Regions from separate parts of the Homo sapiens genome. Here all the other regions are linked to region 1. Evidence: fine-mapped expression QTL. A gene starts in region 1. Each other region holds a variant in brackets. All regions are shown on one strand. Distances are from middle to middle.

What was found. PIP is the estimated chance that this variant, and not a neighbour inherited with it, causes the effect. A credible set is the group of variants that fine-mapping cannot tell apart.
Region 2: its variant is the best candidate, but not a certain one, in a credible set for the expression of ABCB5 in monocytes after R848 (Quach 2016, PIP 0.51).
Region 3: its variant is the best candidate, but not a certain one, in a credible set for the expression of ABCB5 in testis (GTEx, PIP 0.55).

The regions. Positions count from the first base shown.
Region 1 is chr7:20,613,489-20,617,737 of GRCh38, forward strand. ABCB5 (ATP binding cassette subfamily B member 5) reads left to right here and starts at 2,179. Exons shown (of 28, transcript NM_001163941.2): 1 at 2,179-2,349.
Region 2 is chr7:20,481,606-20,485,854 of GRCh38, forward strand. No RefSeq gene overlaps it. Among named protein-coding and RNA genes, the nearest start is that of ABCB5, 130 kb to the right of the region's middle. The variant TC/T (reference allele first, on the strand shown) is at 2,241.
Region 3 is chr7:20,737,068-20,741,316 of GRCh38, forward strand. It overlaps ABCB5 (ATP binding cassette subfamily B member 5), which reads left to right. Exons shown (of 28, transcript NM_001163941.2): 24 at 1,916-2,072. Among named protein-coding and RNA genes, the nearest start is that of SP8, 48 kb to the right of the region's middle. The variant G/A (reference allele first, on the strand shown) is at 1,956.

The sequences.
Region 1 (4,249 bases):
AATCTACACAATGGAAGAAAATATTTGCAAACCACATTTTGAATAATGCGTTAACACCCAAAGTATATAAGAAACTCATACAACTCAATAACAAAAAGACAAATAACCCCATTTAAAAGTAGGCAAAGACCCAAATAGATATTTTTTCCCAAATAAGACATACAAACAGCCAACAGGTACATGAAAAGGTGCTCAACATCAGTAATCATCAGAGAAATACAAATAAAAAACACAATGGGATATCACCTTCTAGCTTTAGAATGGCTATTATAAAAAAGATAAGAGGTAACAGGGGTATGGAAAAAGGGAACCTTGTGCACTTTTGGTGGGAATGTCAATTGGTACTGCCATTATGGAAAAGAGCATCAAGTTTCCTAAAAAAATTAAAAACAGAATTGCCATCTGATCCAGCAATCTCACTTCTAGGTATATACCCCAAGGAAATGAAATCAGTATTTCAAAGAGGTATCTGCACTCCCCTGTCCATTGCGGCATTATTCTCACCAGCCAATATATGGAAACAACCAAAGTGTCCATTGACACATGAATCGATAAAGAAAAGCAATATTATTCAGTCATAAAAAAGAAGGGAACTTTGTCATTTGTGACAACGTGGATGGAACTGGAAGACATTATGTTGTGTGAAATAAGCCAGAGATATGTGTGAAATCCAAAAAAAGTCAAACTCCTAGAAGCAGACAGTAGCATGGTGGTTACCAGAGACTAGGAGGTGGAGGAAATGGGGAGATGTTGGTCAAAGGGTACAAACTTCCAGTTATAAGATGGGTACAGGATGGTGACTACAGTTAATAATTCTGTATTGTATATTTGAAATTTGCTAAGAGAGTAGATCTTAAGCGTTCTCACCAGACACGCACACACACAAACACGTAAATATGTGAAGTGATGGATGTGCTCATTGCAGTAATCATTTCACAATGTATATGTATATCACATCATCATGTTGTAAACCTTAAATATAGACAATAGTATTTGTCAATTATACATATTAAAGCTGAATAAATAAAATAAATTAATTAAAATTATATAAAACTCAAAATTCAGCTCCCTCACTAGGCACATTAAAAGCGCTCAATAGCCACATATGTGTAGCGGCTAGGATATTGGATGTGTGGAGAATATCTCAATTATTGCAGAAAGTTCTGTTGGATGGCTCTGCTCTAGAAGTAACACTTTTAGCTACATTACACCACTTCTGTGCATTTAGATGACATCATGAGATTTTTAAAGCAAAATTAATTATTCCTTCTGTGCATATGACAATTGCAAGTTTATCTCTAGGTTGGCAATTTTCCTAATTATTAGTGCCACATTTACATCTGTTTGCCAGATATTTTCACTTGGACACCAATATCAACCCAAATTTGCATATTTAAACTGAATGTTACCATTTCCCCAAAACCAATTCTGTCTCATAACTTCTCTATTACCATCTTTACTACTCTTTTGTTACAACTTTTAAAAGTTTGATCGCTGAACTTATATTTTTTTTATTTCTTCTTCCTTGTCCTCTTTACCTACCTACCGCCTTAAAAATACCTCTCAAATAGTCTTACTTACTGCTATCAAACTAGATTTTAATGAGTCTACTTAAATCTTGTGTTTCCCCAAGTCCTTCCAGTATATCCATGGCTGTAATGTCAAATAATCAGGTTAATTGTACCAAATACCAATGGCTTTGTCTCTTTCATTCCAGAAAATTATAAAAGTTGTCCTAAAAATTGGTTCAGTGCCTTTTACAATCGTATGTACCTTATCTCTCTCTCCATTTCTGCATGAACAGTCCATCCTATCCAAACCGTTCTCATTTCTCTACCATGAGATAATTCACCTTGCATTCCTAAAACTATGCCCTTGTTCCTCCTCCACATTTTTCTACTTACTGAAACCTTAGCCTTCCTCCAGAAACTAACCTCAGGGCCATCCTCATCTGTGGGCGAAACCATTTTAGATCACAATGTTCTTCCTCAGTCTTCTTAGATACTAGAATAGTCACTCTTTGTACTATTCATCACATAACGTCTGTCTTGCCAGGTATATTAGGTTCCCCTAGAGAAATAGAATCAATAGGCCGTGTGTGTGTGTGTGTGTGTGTGTGTGTGTGTGTGTGTATGTAGAGAGAGAAAGAGAAAACACGCTCATGTAATTGTGGTGACTGGCACTTCCAAAATCCACAAGCCAGACTAGAAGGCTGGAAATTCTGGCAAAAAATTGATACCTTGTATCTGAAAGCTTTATCCTATCCTCTTCAGAAGACTTCAGTCTTTTCTCTTAAGGACTTCAACTGACTGGATGGGGCCCACTCAAAACAGCATCTAAGGAATTAAAGTAAGTCAAAGCAAAAGTATTAGAGATTATGAAAACAATTGAAGCTTGTGAAGAATATAAAACACTTCTCCATCTTAGAAAGAATAGTTTGTGGTAAAGATGGAAACAAAAATGTGTGTGTATGAAACTTTTTCATAGTCAGAAATGATCATCCTACTATTATTTTGGTCATTTTAAAGCATCCATACAATTCATATCTTCTTTCTTTCTTTCCCTGTGACAGGGTCTCACTCTGTCACCCAGGCTGGAGTGCAGTGGCACGATGTTGGCTCACTGCAACCTCCGCCTCCAGGGTTCAAGAGATTTTCCTGGCTCAGCCTTCTGAGTAGCTGGGATTGCAGGTGCCCAGCACCATGCCCAGCTAATTTTTTTATTTTTAGTAGAGATGGGGTTTCACCTTGTTGGACAGGCTGGTCTCGAACTCCTGACCTCAGATGATCCAGCCGCCTTGGCCTCCCAAAGTGCTGGGATTACAGGCATGAGCCACTGCGCCCAGCCATATCTTCTTTCATCTAACCAAAGATCCCATGTTTTCCATCCAACCAGTATATCTTAGCTATTTGTCAGATTATTCTTACCAAGGATGCTTGAACGTTAAGTGCATCTCATGATTTCTTCTCACATGGGTATTTTGTCCTATGATTTCCATCTTGGTACATGAACCTAGAAATATTTTTTAAGGCAAAAGTCCTTATAAATAAAATATTCTGTCTATTTTTACATTTTCTTGTATGTTCCATAGTACTTGCCATGATAGCATCCACACAGCTGTCAATAAGTAAGAATTGGCTGACTGATAGATTTTGTGTAGAGCAATTAAGATGTTCAGAGTTCTTCTCTCATGTTATCTACTTAGTGCTGGATATTACTACCTGATTATCTCACAAATATCTCAAACTTGACAAGTTTCAAGTTAAATTTATCTTCCTTTTGAAACATTGGGTAACAGAGAGGAACATGGGGGCAGCCATCATAGTCAACCTGTAGCTTTCCATACAGTGAGGACCTGCCAACTGGCTCACAAATTGCTTTGACCTTGTGTCGCTTTGTCTCAGTGCACTTTTCTCTACTATCTAAATAGTATTCCTTCTGCCTGGGATAGTCTTTTTGATCTTTATATAGCAACCTCCTTTTATAATTCAGATTGCAGCTTAAACATTATCTTCTACAAGGGGCTTTCTCTGACCAGATGTATATAAATACCACATTACTCTTCATAAAATTACCCTGTTTTAATTATATACCAAAAACTGACCACTCTCTAATTTTCCTTATTTATGTATGCCTTTTTTTAAAATTGTGACTCTCCCTGTAATGGAGTCTAAGCTCTATGACAGCAAAGATGTCTAGGCTGTTCAGTGCTTAAAACAGTACCTGGCACAGTATATATCTATAGAATGAGTAAATTTTTTTAAAAAATCATCTAATGAGCTTGTTTAAAATGTAGATTTTTTTCCAGTGCATTTCTTTAGATTATCATTCAGTACATGTGGGGCAAGGCCTAGGTAGGTGTCTGATATCTTTAACATGCACTCCAGGTGATTCTGATGCCAGAGGTCCTTTGACAATACTTTAAAACTGTGCTATTAACAGCAGATAAAAACAATATGTTGTCAGCACTAAGGTGTATTTTAAACTTTATTTTTATAATCTTGGATTTAGGAAGATAAAATTTCCTCTAGATAAGTAGTGCCTTCTGTTTCTCAAGGCTTTGTGCTAGATACTATATAGTCATGTTTCTCAAAATTTGATATGCATTACAAACCACTTCGACAATCTTGTTAAAATGCAGATTCTATTCAGAAGTTTTAGAGTGAGACCCAAAAATCGCATTTTTATAATGGATTAAAAATATATAATCTAACTGTATGCTGTCAATAAGAGAATCATTTTAGATCTA
Region 2 (4,249 bases), 130 kb before region 1:
CTGGAATTTGCCTTGCCAAGTTTTAGACTTGCTTGGGACCTATCACCCCTTCCTTCTTTCCTAATTTTTCTCTTTGGAATGGGAATGTCTGTCCTATGCCTGTCCCACCATTGTATTTTGGAAGCATATAACTTCTCTCGTTTCATGGTTCAGAAGTGGGGAATAATTTTGCCTTAGGATGAATTGTACCTCAAGTCTCACCCATATCAATGAGCCTTTGGACTTTACAGTTTAGAGTTAATGCTGAAATAAGCAGGACTTTTGGTGCCATTGAGGTGGAATAAATATATTTTGCATGTAAGAAGGACAAAAATTTGGGGGTGCTGGGCAGAATGTTAATGAGTGAATATGTTCTAGAAAAAGCGCATTGAAGGAGAGAAAAATGTGCGAGAAAGAGACCAATCCATGGTGAAAAGTCAGTGGTTTACACTCCAGAGAAGAACTAATCAGCTCTGTTTTTATATAGCATAAGTTTAACATGCTGGGAAATGCTCCTTTGCCTTGGTTGGTGGTCAGGCAGAGAGAATTTAGAAGAAAACAAAGGTTCATTTAGCACTTGGAGGCACCAAGTATTAGCCTCTTTTTTTTTTCCCTAAGATACTAAACAAAAGTGTGATGTCACACAGATCTTACTGAACTGAATAACTGTGGGATTCCATGGTGACCTTAACATTTGAATTCACACTCCTACGCAATGGGTGGCTTTTTTCAGAATAAAGAGGTTTTTAAACACATGTGCTACAAAGCCCAGCAAGATCTCAGGAAAAGAATATGCGACAATTGAAGAGGGTGCCTCCACAGAAAAATTAATTATATGGTGACTTATGGATGAAACACACACAGTTGCTGCTCAGGCTGTAATATTATCCATGTTTAGCTAATTCCCAAAGAACAATGAATCACATATAAGTTGTAAATACTGGGCTTTTTGTTTTATAAAACCCCAAACAAATGTGTTACCATTTTGTACGTGAATAAGAACTTATATTAATAATCTCTTGGTCTGAAAATAGTACTGATAGGTCAAAAAAAAAAAAGGACAAAATATCCAGGAAAGATACACCCAAAAGAAATATAACCTAGAAAAATGAGGAAGTTTAATGCATGCTTTCTTGTGTTTTTCAATTCTTTCTTGCTAAAAAAGAATTATCATTATCACTTACAGAATTCAAAAGACTCTCCTCAGTTTTTTACAATATGCTGTGTCAAAGCAAGACCCTGATACCCCAACTGCAGAGTGTACTCCAGAGTCTGGCTCCTAGAGCATTTCTGATACCTAGAAAAGCAGACAGGAAAGCACATAACTATAAAACTAAAGCATTGCAAACCAGTCAGTGTGGCTGTTTAAAAAACATAAAGTCCTACACTGGAAACCTCTAATAGTCAGAGGTGGGAGAGGGTCTATAATCTCCAGCCCTGTACCTCACTTCCAAGAAGTCAACTGCAGTAAAACAGATTGCAGTAAAACAAATTTCAGACCACCTTCTGTCAGATGCAGACATTTATTATTAAAGAGTAGGTGTGAACTTTCTGGAGCAGCACAGTCCCTCTCTCTGACCTAAGACATAGCCAGCAGCCCTATGTATGGAACGCCCACTTCAGAGGGGACTCAAAGTCAGCATCTATAGTCTGATCCTGATCCTCTGAGGCAAGGGGGTCTGCAGGTCCACTAGAGTGCAGACCTGAAGTTCCACTCCATTGATACATACAGCCTGGTTACTGGGTATCTTCTCCTGTGTATTTATTCGGGCCAAAGTATTGGGTCCTGAATCACCATTCCAAGCAATCATAACCTAAATATCACTCATTTCAATTTCACTAATAATGATACATTATTAGTTAACTAAGCCTAGAGCATTCATTTTGAATAAGGAATTCATCTACTAAAAGCTCTCCCTAAAGCGCTGACTATAGGTAACTTGTATATACTCTGGACAATAGTATTTAGGATAAATTATCCCACAGACAGTATAACCAGAGGAAGCAACACTGGAGATTGGGCTTGAATCCAAACTTAATTGAAGACCTTCTAAGTGCTAGGTCTTTTGGGTTTAAGATAACTAGGCAAAAGGAAAGAAAAGGAATGGAATGAAAAACAAAACAAAATACTGTTGTCGTCCTCCATAATTTTACCACATATCCATGATAATAACCAATATGGCTACAAAAACTGAGTAGCAAAATCTCAGAAATTGATCAAAGTAAATCTGATCTGTGCTTCTGTGTGGATGGGGATGGTT[TC/T]AGACAGAATCTCTCTTTCACACAGTGGCCAGATCCAGTGCTCTCTCATCTCTGAAACTTGGTCCCCCAAATTTGGAAAAAATTATTCAGAAGATAGAATATCAAGGCAAAAATTCTAACTTAATTAGGTAAAGAAACTCATGCAAAAGTGAAATTTGCATGAAGAAGCAAGGTTAAATCAACTGGATTGCCCAAGGTTGACAACATTCAGCACCAGCAAAGAGAGTTATATCAACCTAAACAAGAAACAGACAGTCTTCTGTTGAAGGCAACATTCAGATTTGGTGAAGCACTATAGGCTGGTGACTATATATTTGCTAAATTTTTGTGTTGTGTCAAAGACCCCAAAACAATTCTTGGTACTCACACAATGACAATCAGAAAAACACCAGTAGACAGGAAGCCAGATCTGATATTGAAGGAGATGTGACAACCTTCCCTGTCAAAATATTTACAATAATTAAAACAAACTATAAATAGAAATAGTTATGAAACATAAAATGATAAAATATAATGTTATAAATATAAACAAATGATAAATATAAACAAAAAAGGAAACAGAATGTCAACATGGTTGACACTCTGCTTATAAAATACAGAAACAGATTTTTTTTGTCAGGAGATGAAATTATCTACTTTAAAACCTAGATGACAAGCAGATGGAAAAATAATTCTCTTTTAATCCCCGGCTAGCTGACTCATAGCCAAAAGGATATGGTAATATCAGTTGACAACAGAGCCACCCACTAAAAACATACAACTCACTAAGGAATAATGACTTTGCAGAGGAAGTAAAATTACAGATGTAAGAAATTAGGTCAAAACTTTCTTTTCTAACACCACCAGAAACCTTAAACTACTCTCTAGATAAAATCAACCAAAAAGCTGAATAAGTACATATGAATAGTTTAAATTTTAAGTGTATCACTGAGTTAAAAACAAACAAAAGGATTTGTGGGACCTCCCCATTGCTGCACAGAAAACTCAGGAGATAAGCCAGTGCCAAAGTCACCTCTGAGGGTTTCTGCCCAACCCTGAACACCTGAGTTTCCTCCAGTGACTGCACAATATCCAGGAAACAGGTGATAATGCTTAGCACTTACTCAGAAAAGTGGGAAATCTAATAGGATTTTCTGCCAGCAGTATAAAGATGAAGAAGAAGCAAAACCTGTTACCTAGGAGGAGATAGCAAGGAAATTTGCCTGTCTCAAGCCTTGTCATAGAGGAAGATGAGGTGGGGATGGAGAGAAAAGGGAGAATTCATAACCACAAAATTGCCCTCATAGAGATTTACAGTCTGAATTTACAGCACCTCTATTGTCTGTCAAATCTCTGGTAGAGAATAAAATTTAAAGAATTGGATTTAAATGCCAAGATGACTTTCAGACACAAATAAAAATCTAGGATAGAAATTAGTAAACAGATTCAAACAAATTGTCCAAAATGTAGCCCAGAAAAAATAAAAAACCTATGAAATTAAAAATAGGTTAAGATAACACATCTAGTCAGGGCTCCAAAAGAAATAATAAAGGAAATTGAGATGAAGCAAAATTAGAATAGATAAAGGGTAAGAATTTCTCAGAAATGTTGAAATACACTAGTCATGAGAATGAAAAATGGCAACTATAAATTCAAAATCCAAATGCAATTCCCAAAATCAATAAATTTAACCAAACAAATATAAAATTTCTGTATGGGTTAAAAAAACTCATAATTAAAATGAAAAAACAACAATAAACTAGTAAGAAAAGAGTTAAGGAGAAACAGAAAAGCTTAGGCAAATAGGAAACACATAATAAAATAATAGAACCAATAACATATATTAGTGATCATTATACATTTAAAATAATTCTTCATTTAAAATAAATTTTGTAATATTAAATTCAATATTTTTAAAAACCTGTTAAGTTTTGTTTGTAAGAGTCCCATTATCATAAAGAAATGAAAGAAAATGTGGAAAGAGTGAAAAAGATATATCAGATAAATACTAAACTGAAGAATGCTGGAA
Region 3 (4,249 bases), 120 kb after region 1:
GAATTGCTTGAACCCAGGAGATGGAGGTTGCAGTGAGCTGACATCATGCCACTGCACTCCAGCCTGAATGACAAAGCAAGACTCTGTCTTAAAAAAAAAAAAAGATGAAGAAGATTAGTGTCCCTCACTCAACCCCAGATAGTCCAACACCTCAAAGTCCACACTTCCCCTCCAGGGTCTTCAACATAACCCTCATCGGCATCAGCCCCCATCCCACTTACGTTTCTCTCAGCACTCACTCATTAAAGACGGTATCAGGGCTTTTGCTTGTACTCTCCCTTCTCTAACTGAACCCTTTCTTCCGGCTCCATTCTCCATCCTTTGGGTCATTTACCTCCCACAAACACAAGCTCTGAGTTGAAGGCCCTTCTCCCTTTCTCATTAATATTTCCATTTTCAGAGGGACCTAACAAGGATGTCTGCCTCTAGACATTTATGTCTAATGCTTACCATTACTGTTATAGTGGGAATGTTAGGACAGGTAGAGATTTTAGCATATCTCAAATCATGGGAAGAAGCTATTTTCTCAGTTATTGATTTCAGAGAAGCCTCTACCCCTTTGGGACTAGAAACCAGGTCTCCTAACTCATAATCCAATTATCTTCCCAGCTCACCTGCTGATTCTTGGATCAGACTGAGGCTTAAGTCTGACAGTCTGATTTTTCCTTGCATTAAAAACACATTTAAAAAAAAAAACCTTCTGATTTGGTTACCTAAACTCAGTGACCATTTCTGATGTTTATAGCTGGGTATCAAATAATTCAAATGGCATTTTGAGCTTTAAACACTTTCTGTAAATATCAGTACTAAAAAATGCCTTGACATCACTGAACTAAATAACAATTATTTTAGTGTTATTTTTGTTTTTATATTTTATACTGTGTTTGATCTTTGTAAAGCCAACAGGATTCAGGATCTGAGGTCTAGGTCACTGAAGAGATTGCATCAGCATCTACATCTACCCTTTGATAGGCCCCATTGAGGGAGAAATTCACAAGGAGCCCAGACGTGTTTACTTTGCTGTTATCCAGCACTGCAAACAAGCAACTGGGTTCTGTGATGACCCTTTACTGCCTAATGTTTAAATATTGCCAGCGACACTGGTCCAGTTTTAGCCTGATTGTGCCGTTAGGTTTGTTACTAAGATGCATTGTTTTGCATTCTAGTACACTACTTTCATATCTAAAATGAAATCGAAAATGAGAGGAAAATATTTAACCATGGTCAGGTCCTGTGCCACAGTCGAGTAAATATTCTGTGTGCTTCCAAACATCATTTGCACACTTACCATTTTATAATTAACATGTTTTGAAACTGAGATCATAATCAATAACAAACCTAAAAGATCAAAGTTCTTCTTTCAGTCTTTTTAGTCAGATTTTGCTTTGGGAACCTGAGGAAAATACGATCCCCATGATTTGCTCTCTAAATAATGTAGCATATCAGACAGATAACCAGTCATTTAGCTTCAGTTATCTGTCCTAACTACATTATATGCAAAACAAACAAACAAAAAATCATATCTACTGTGTAAATCCAGATCTCACTACTGGAGATTCATTCTTCCTATTGTCAGTTGAATTCTCTGTCAAATCTCCAAGCAAGCAAGCCTCATATCAAGATGACTAAGAAGTTTTATATTCACTAGTTGGGACCTTTGATCTGTGGCTCTAATTGGAAGAGACATTTTTAAGATTACCCAAGCTCCAAAGTTCATTTTGGTGTACAGAGCAAGGAATGATTACTACATGGTAGAAATTTTTTAAAGAGATAACTTGGTGGGTCTTCAGCGTTAGGGGTGCCGTCTACATCAAAAGATTATATTCCTGTGCCTGCTTTTTTCTTTACTTTTAGAGTTCTACTGTTTTACAAAGGATCGATGGACCTAAGATTCAAATGCTTTATCTTTTGATAGAGTTTTTACTGCAATTGCATATGGAGCTATGGCCATCGGA[G/A]AAACGCTCGTTTTGGCTCCTGAATATTCCAAAGCCAAATCGGGGGCTGCGCATCTGTTTGCCTTGTTGGAAAAGAAACCAAATATAGACAGCCGCAGTCAAGAAGGGAAAAAGCCAGTAAGCACAACTGTGATCTTAAATGTCCAAATAAAGATGGCAACAGTAGGAACTGGGGGCCACTGAAGATGGGAGGGAGAGAGGGGCAAGGGCTGAAAAACTAACCATTGGGTGCTATACTCAGTACCTGTGTGACAAGATCATTCATACCCCAAACATCAGCATTACGCAATATACCCAGACAACAAACCTGCGCATATACTCCTGGATCTAAAATAAAAGTTGAAAAAATAAAATGTAACATAAATGAAAAATAAAAATAAAAAATAAATGTCCACTTATTAAATGAAGGCTGTCTTTGGAAAACTCTGCAAAAGATAATGTCATAGTAACATAAAGAGTTAAAAGTTTGTGCAAAATAATTTTATGGCTGCAAACGGGGAAAAGGGGTCTTGTCTTAATCAAATTTTTACCTCTACAACTAAAATTTATATTTCATATTTTAAAATATATGCTTTTAATTTATATGCCTGATGCTATGAGAATGTTCTTGAAAAAAAAGATTGATTCTTATACTGAATTCTACTGAGAAACTAAAGTTTTGATCTTGGATGAAGATTCGTATTAAGGTTTATTTGTTTTTTTTTCTCTGATAATATATGCAAAGTAAATAATATTCTGCTGCTTCAGACACCATTTTTCATGGGAAATATATTTACAAACAAAGGGGAAAAAAAGGAAAGTATACCTATTAAATTGATGCACACAAACAAATTTAGCCTCAAACTCTAAAAGACTGTGAATATTAAAAGAGAAATAATAGGTAGGGTGTATAATTTCAAAATAAATCTCTCAATAATAGTCTTATACAGCTGGGCGTGGTGGCTCACGCCTGTAATCCCAGCACTTTGGGAGGCCGAGGTGGGTGGATCACGAGGTCAGGAGATCGAGTCCATCCTGGCTAACATGGTGAAACCCCGTCTCTACTAAAAATAAAAAAATTAAAAAAATTCAGCCGGGTGTGGTGGCACGCACCTGTAGTCCCAGCTACTCGGGAGGGCGAGACAGGAGAATCGCTTGAACCCGGGAGGCGGAGGTTGCAGTGAGCCGAGATCACGCCACTGCACCCCAGCTTGGGCGACAGAGCGAGACTTGCTCTCAAAAATAAATAAATAAATACAAAATAAATAATAGTCTTATACATTAAATATACATTCAATTTTAGTACTTTTCTAGACATTTTAATTTTTAAAATAAAAATAGTCCATTAGGTATATACTTAAATGTTTTTAACTTATAATTATTTCCCTCTAGAATTTTAATAGATTTATATGTATGACAGCTTAAAATACAGCATTACTAGAGCTACACAATGGTTAAGAAGAATGCCTGTTAGTGACAGAAATAAGACTATCTGGAAATTCTCAAAATAGAATGCTTCAAAGATACATCACAGTCAAAATAAGATTTTGTTCTTGTATTTTGGAAAGTAAAGGATGTAAGAAGCTTTTTTTTAATTTTAAGATTTATATGTATAACAGTATTGCTACTCCTATTTCTTTCTGCAGATTATAACAGAGGAATTGAGTATCTCACTGATCTATGTCCTTACAGAACCATAGGCATGGCATAGACTATGGAAGTGTTTCTTATAAAGGCTATAAAATTAATGAATTTAATCCTTATTTTATTTAGTATGTAAATGTTTCTGAATATCACTCTACGCTTTTAAAAATTAAAATCTGGGCAGGGTGTGGTGGCTTACACCTGTAATCCCAGGACTTTGGGAGGCTGAGACGGGCGGATCACCTAAGGTCAGGAGTTCAAGTTCAGCCTGGTTAACATGGCAAAGCCCCATCGCTAACAAAAACACAAAAATTAGGGTGTGGGGGCAATGCCTGTCACCCCAGCTGCTCGGGAGGCCGAGGCAGGAGGATCGCTTGAACCTGGGAGGCAGAGATTGCAGTGAGCCGAGATCACACCACTGTACTCCAGCCTGGGTGACAGAGCGAGACTCCTTCTCAAAAAAAAAAAAAAAAAATTAAAGTCTGGTCAAACAAAATTGGCAAATATTGAAATTCCAGCTGGGTGATAGGTATGTGGGCCATTTATTAAATTTTTCTCTCTATTTTTATACTTTTGGAGTTTTTCATATTAAATAGAATTAAAAATCGTAAGAATAAATTTTAAATGTATTAAATTTAGAAGTTTTCTAGAATACCTCTGTGAGCTATTAT